Linked DNA regions of Homo sapiens. The protein of the gene in region 1 purifies or fractionates together with the protein of each later gene. This does not show direct contact. Each region holds a gene or a part of one and is shown in the gene's direction. Other genes may lie near its edges.

Region 1 (3,500 bases):
AGCCCTAGCCACTCTGCTCAGGGGCATGCCATGAGTGGGCCAGCGCGCCCCATCCGTCTTGCTCTCCACAGGAGCAATGAGCCCACCAGCCCAGGTTTACTTTTCCTGGCCCCAGCTTTCCAGCCTCTCCACAGCCTGTTCTTCCTTGCTCTTAGTTTCTGATTGCTTTCCACCCTTCATCATGAACTCTTCTACAGCCAGGGAGGCCCTTGTGTTCCCATCTCTACCCCGGGAGCCTCTCGGCATCAGGCTCCAGACTTCTTCCTCTGTCATCTGCCTGCTGTCGTGATGCCTGCTGTGCAGACTCCCTCAAGTTAGGACAGAGTGCTTCCTCTGTGGAGTAGGGCCCTCCCTTTCCTTTCTGGGCATGCTTTCCCTCTGAGCCCACGTTGCCTCCAAGTCCTTTCTTAGTGCACCACTTGAGGAGTCACTGCCAGCCGGACACAGATGGCCCAAGACTAGCAACGGATTTCTAGCCCTGGCCTCAGATAATGGTTCATAGGCACGCCGGTCTCTTCCTCAGGTCATCATTGTCATCTACCTGTCCGTGGTGGGTGCCCTGTTGCTCTACATGGCCTTCCTGATGCTGGTGGACCCTCTGATCCGAAAGCCGGATGCATATACTGAGCAACTGCACAATGAGGAGGAGAATGAGGTAAGAGGGCTTTGAGTGCCCAGGCCCTGGGTCCCTGCATGTGCGTCCCCAGGGCAAAACCCAGAGGAGCGTCACCTAGGTCCAGGTCCCACCTCCCCAAAATGCTTCAAGTTGCTCTTCTGGTCAGTGTCGTACACATCACCCAGACTCAGCAGGGACCTGCTCTTTGCCCTTCCAGATGAAGCAGGACACCGGGCATCAAGCAGTCTCCATGTACAAGCCGGGGGAGCCATGTCATCCTGCTGTACTGTGCTTCCAGGCAGAGGGGGCGCAGCCAGCCAGAGCCAGTCACACATAGATACACATGATATCCCCCGTGTGCTCAGACATTGGTGACAAGCTGCTGGTGGACTGGACGGCAGCAGGTTAATTTGTTTGTCCAGTGATTCCACAAACATCTGTTGAACACTTGCTCAATGCAAACCAGAGCTCCAGGGTCTGGGGAGAAATGTAGGATTTCAAGAGCGGAAGAGGAATGAGACAGTGGTGCCGGGCAGGGGACATTGCCAAGTATGTGTGAGGAATTTTGAGCGTTGCAAGGATAGGGTAGAGATGTTTGAATAGTGGCAAAGAGAGCTGGCCAGTAGATTTAGGTCACATTATTAAAAGTCCCAAATGTCAAGCTAAGGGGGTTTGGCTTTATCTGACAAGGAAAGTGGGGAACCACTGACCCCAGACAGCCTGCAAGGCCTCCAGGAGTTCATGCAATGGTGGGGAGCTGGCAGGGCTTGGACCAGGCCCAGTGCAGTTAACAAGCGCTGTCACCGTCTTCCCATTCATCCTCATACTAAAAAGTTGTGGACACCATGGCGAGGAAACCCGGGGGGACAGGAGGGCTCAGGTGAAGGGCTCTTCGTGGGAGTGAGACGTGGTGTACCTCCATGCTGAGCAGAGTTGTGATGAGCCCTGCACTCCCCAGGTGGTCTAGGGGAATCTTGCCTGAGTGAGGACTGCACAGCCCCGTGTGCCTCGGGCTCCCCCTTTATGCGCTCATGTACCAGCTAGCTGGGTGCATGAGACAGCAGAGCGGGCTGCTTAGAGGCGTGGAGCCAAGGCAGGCGGGGTTGGCTGCTGCTTCCACTCTGAGCTCTGTCCCCAGGGCCTTGCTGCTGGAAGATACTCCTGTTTATTGACTGATGGAGGGATGCCCTGAGTGAACTCATGCGTATGCATAAGGAATATCTAGTCGGGAAGCGCCTCAGCTAGGCCTCAGAGAATTAGTTGAAGAAACTGAGAGTCATTTAGCTTAAAGGAAAAGAAAAACAACTAAAGGAGACGCATGATAGCTGCCTTCAGAAGTTTGTAGAAGACAGCTTGGCTTCATCCAGGGACAGAGAGATTTAACACAATATGAGGAGGAGGCTGGGAGTCTTCCTGTAGACAGCGTGGTCTAACTATGGGGTAGGTGGGCTGGGCTCCCTTGCAAGACCATGAGCCAGTTCCTCACCAAAAAGAGGACCCAGGGGCTCAAGTCTAAGTGTGAAGCTGCCTGGGTGATGTGGGTCTGGGCCAGCATGAACAGCGAAGAGAAGGGCAGATCAGGGAGGGAGCCTGGCTGCTCTCGAGGGCTGTGTTGCCCCACCCTGCGCACATGCCTGGACTGCTCCCAGTTTGCCCCCAGCCTCCTGCTGACATGAGTTTGGCCGAAGGTGGAGCAGAGGGGATGAGCCTCGCCCCATTGGAGCTAGGGCCTGGGAGGTGGTGGCACTGGCAGTTGGGTGGTCTGTGTTCAAGAGGAAACCTCGTGTGCCTACCTGGTTATTAATGTAGAGTAATAGCAGCTCTGATAGGGGAGGAGCATCGCTAATAAACACTCAGCGATTAGGGGTAATGTGGTAATTGCAGTCCTGGCTGGGGTAGTAATTGAGAGATGCAGCCCAATGATTTCCGTGGAATGCATGGCTCTGGGGCATGGCCTTGTTATGTCTCCTGCCATCCTAGCCAGGGAGCCAGAGGGAGGGCAGCTTGGGGAGAGCAGCTTGCCGTCCCTGGGTATGAACCCAGGTCTCTCTTACCCCCAGGAGACCTGGAGTGCTCCTCATTTGAAGCCTGTTTGTATGAGGGGGCCTTGGGAGGAAGAAGGGCTAGATTTGGTAACTGTGGCAGGACTGCCTGGGAGGACAGTAGGCTGTGATAGGCTGCAGCACATAGAAGCTGGCGAGCCATGCTCCCTCCTGTAGGGGAAGTTGCGGCCCTGGGATGGACAGGATGACACGCCCTCACCTCTCACCTGAGGTTCTAAAAGCTCATAAAAAGTTGTGTTTAATCTCTTTGATACCCTGACCTAGGGTGCAGCCAACTCTCGCTGGTTGTGGCCTGGGGCAGGTAGATCTCATTGGGTGCCCTTGGCTGGGTAAGGAAGTGCCCCCAGTCCCGTTCTTTGGCATCATCTCTCTATCCCCTCACCTCCTGTGATTCTGTGTGGTCTCCAGGTCACAGATGTCTGTGGTTCAGCAACTCTGCTTTTCTCAGTGTATTCAGAAAACCTGCAGGTGGCACAGTGTTGAGATTTGCACAGACCTTATGTCTGCCCTCGGGGGTTTAAGCCCCAAGACGGCCAAAAGCAGGTAAAGCAGCAGGAAACGTAAAGGCTGGCAGTAAGATCTGGCTTCGTAAGACGGGTGGTCAGCTGAAAAGTCAGGTGCCTTGGGAGGCCCCTCTTTACTAGACAAGGGGTCGGAAAGTTACCCTTCTCGTTGTGTTAGTCTGGGAAGGAAGGCTTCCTGGCAGAGGGGGATTTTCAGTGCCCACTCAGGGTGGTTGGGAGAGTGACCGCTGAACTGCAGGGAGGATGAACAGGGCATTGGGGCTGGACAGAACCCAAGGAGCTTGTCTTTACAGAGAC
Region 2 (3,500 bases), on another chromosome or scaffold:
GTCTCTTGCTTCAGAATGGAAATGTTGGTACCTTTGGTTCTCACTGAAACACTGTCTATACCACCATTAAAGAACCTGTTTGTGTAGTGGTATCTATCTCTTGTCTGTGTTATGTTCTTAATGTTCCTTTTATCTAACCTGTGGAAGATGGCATTAAACGTTGTTTTAATTAGTAACAATAATAGGCTTTCTCACTGTTTTGTTACCTTCAAGAATAGTTTTAAATTTAGTATTTTGGTAGGAAATTCAGAGATTTCCTAGATTTCAGAGATGGAATTGTATTTTTGGACATTTCCTTTCCTCTTTAAAGATCTTGAGATCTGTTCAGTACTAATAGATCTAATGCTTCTTTCTTATGCTTCCAGTTAGTTTGCACTTGTTACCCTATATATAGCTTCACATATGCTTCAGAAGCTTAAGCAAATTAAAAAAACAAATGGGGACTGTGAGAGTTTGAGACTGTTTTCAATTCTTGATAACCATTTTAGAGGAAAATTAAATAATGTATAAATTATTCAGACTCATCGCTATTTCAAGATTTTCTGCCATTTAGCTCCTTTCCTTAATTATCCAGATTTAAAGTTCTGAACTTCAAATAAAGGTTTATAAATGTCTTATCTTCTCTCAGCCCACTGTGCTCAGATATTAATCAAACCATCTAAATCACTGCACAAGTTTTATTTCATTCATGACGTCACACTGAATGTGCTCTCTCTCCTTAAGATTTCATTTGGTATGTCATTCATGTATAGTTAACAAACATTTAAAAATCTAATTACTCATTTTTAAGTTAATGTGTAACATAAATATACTACTTATATTTAAATGTAGTTCACCTTAACTGACATACTAAAGACAGATTTTAGCAAATATTTTGATTCAGAATGATACCTCAAACTACCATTTTTCTAACTGCCATAATCCTCTATTAAACTTATATAATCCATTTTTAGATTGTAAGATCTTAAAGAATACCTAAAAAAAACCCTCTTAAATGTTGATGAATTGTTTTTCCATTATAAAGTCATTTTTGACTTTTAGAAGTCAAGACTAATACATTTTCTAGAAAACAAGGTACAAAAGCACTTGTGATTAATGGTAGCACTAGATTTCTTTCAGCAAATCCTTAAGAGTACAGAGGTTGAGGGGACTTCTGTTGTTTGTCACATTCCGCATTTGAAACAACTCACAGTGACTGTCAGCCTAAGAATAGCAAATGTAGTCTTGCTTTTTGTTAAAGAGTTCTTACTTATACCTTATGGCATTTTTGTTGACTATTAGAAATGTAAATTGAGAAACATATAAACTCTTAAGTTCAGAGACGTAAGTTCATGGAACTTTTAGAGTTTAACAGTGTTAATGATTACTTAAGAAATTAAACTGAATAGCAGTTCTTTGTGCTTTTAACGAGTAGTTTTGTTTTTAAGGGCAGCATATACTTTTCCTACAATTTAGTGTTTGAAGGGTGGGAGAAGAGGAACGATTTTGAAAAGTTAGCGAATGATAAAGAAAAAAGGAATTAAATAGAACATAAGTTGGTTGATGCCTTGCAAACAACTTAGAGCAGAACTTCTTTATTATTTAGATAGGTCAGGGTTCCAGTTATACATGCTACCTAGTGTCTCCTTCTGACCTCATTATCTGTCTGAATAAACTTCAGATGGGTACTGGATGTATATTGACTACTGTCAAATAAAATGAACTTTGTTTTAGTTAAGGTCAGATATGATGTGGTTGGTATGTTTTGGAACATGTTTTTTCAGGTTGCATCTGGAGGTGGTGGGGTTGGAGATGGTGTTCAAGAACCAACCACAGGCAACTGGAGAGGAATGCTGAAAACTTCAAAAGCTGAAGAGTTATTAGCAGAAGAAAAATCAAAACCCATTCCAATTATGCCAGCCAGTCCACAAAAAGGTCATGCCGTGAACCTGCTAGATGTGGTAAGCCATGACAATTTGGTTTAGGTAATAAGGTAGGTGACCAAGTTAGTAGGAAAACGATTAGACAGAAAGAACTAAAAGTCTCAAAAACTTACATAACTTTCAGATGTTAAAGCTGCCATTTTAGTGTCACAAAAGTAATATTTTTTCCCCCTCATCCCTATTTAGCCAGTTCCTGTTGCACGAAAACTATCTGCTCGGGAACAGCGAGATTGTGAGGTTATTGAACGACTCATTAAATCATATTTTCTCATTGTCAGAAAGAATATTCAAGACAGGTTAGTATTACTTAATATAAATGACGGACTTTAATACTTCTGGATGATTCTGTGATCTGTTTTGAAAAATACATGTATTTTTACAATTTTAGGTTTTTATTCTAAATCATCAAGTGGATTTTCTGATAGTCCTTGGGTAACTTGTAGCAAGACCCATTTTGTTAACATAGAATGACTAGGACCTCATGTATCAGCTAGAAAAAGCTATTAAAAATGAGAGATTCTTTTGTTCTATCTGGCTGCCACATTTTGAGTCATTTAAGAAAATCTTTTTCCTAAATTTTAATTTAGTAGTTTCATTAATTATTTTGGCTAGTAACACTGACTTGCCTTTTTAATTTAACTTGGTTTTCCAAAGTATCAAAACGAATGTCTTTTACTAGGAAATATGTGTATTTTTTCTCGTTCAGAATGTTTTTTCATGTGTCTAGTCCCTACTGCATCTTCTCCTTCATGTTGCCTGGTATGTCATTTCATGCAGTAATAGGGAGAATATACATTTAGTTGTGTGAAGTGATCTATTAGAAAATATTCTGCATCCAGTTTTTGGTAATCTGTCAGCAGCTAAGATGAATTTTACTGCACAGAGTAATAAACAGTCTAATACTTCATATTGAAATAAATGATTTTTGTCTGTAGAACCATTTATCTTTTTTGCTTGTAGACTTTTTAAACCCGTAGCTTGTAGTAGAAATAACAGTTCCTAGTGTTTTACACTGTGGGCCTGAAGAAAAAAATTCCATTTGTTTCCTTCCTTGCCCCCATCCTCTGCAGAAGGTGTTTTTGAGATGGAGTCTCGCTTTGTCGCCCAGGCTGGGGTGCAGTGGCGCAGTCTTGGCCCACTTCAACCTCTGCCTTCTGGGTTCAAGCGATTCTCCTGCCTCAGCCTCCTGAGTAGCTGGGATAACAGGTGTGCACCACCATGCCCAGCTAATTTTTGTATTTTTAGTAGAGACGGGTTTCACCATGTTGGCCAGGCTGGTCTCGAACTCCTGACGTCAGGTGATCTACCTGTCTTGGCCTCCCAAAGTGCTGGGATTATAGGCGTGAGCCACTGCACCCGGCTCACTTAATGTTTTTAAGCCTCATCCATACTGTAGTATGAATCAGTATAGTCACGCACCACATAACATTTTAGTCAACAGACCACGTATTTGAATGTGTTCCCGTTAGATTATGATACCATGTTTTTGCTGTACATTTCCTATGTTTAGATACACAAATACTATTGTGTTACAGTTCCCTATTCAGTACAGTAACATGCTGTACATGTTTGCAGCCT

Evidence for each region. Proteins that work in one complex are often made in the same cells at the same time.
Region 2: the proteins of TMEM9 (region 1) and DNM1L purify together in Homo sapiens (affinity purification with mass spectrometry; one large-scale study listed by BioGRID and IntAct). This does not show direct contact.

Annotation. Positions count from the first base shown.
Region 1 is NC_000001.11:201,140,975-201,144,474, reverse strand, and holds part of TMEM9 (proton-transporting V-type ATPase complex assembly regulator TMEM9 isoform a precursor), read left to right. Parts: intron 1-523; coding exon 524-655; intron 656-3,500. UniProt on the Homo sapiens protein: Transmembrane protein that binds to and facilitates the assembly of lysosomal proton-transporting V-type ATPase (v-ATPase), resulting in enhanced lysosomal acidification and trafficking.
Region 2 is NC_000012.12:32,738,301-32,741,800, forward strand, and holds part of DNM1L (dynamin-1-like protein), read left to right. Parts: intron 1-1,763; coding exon 1,764-1,940; intron 1,941-2,108; coding exon 2,109-2,218; intron 2,219-3,500. UniProt on the Homo sapiens protein: Functions in mitochondrial and peroxisomal division.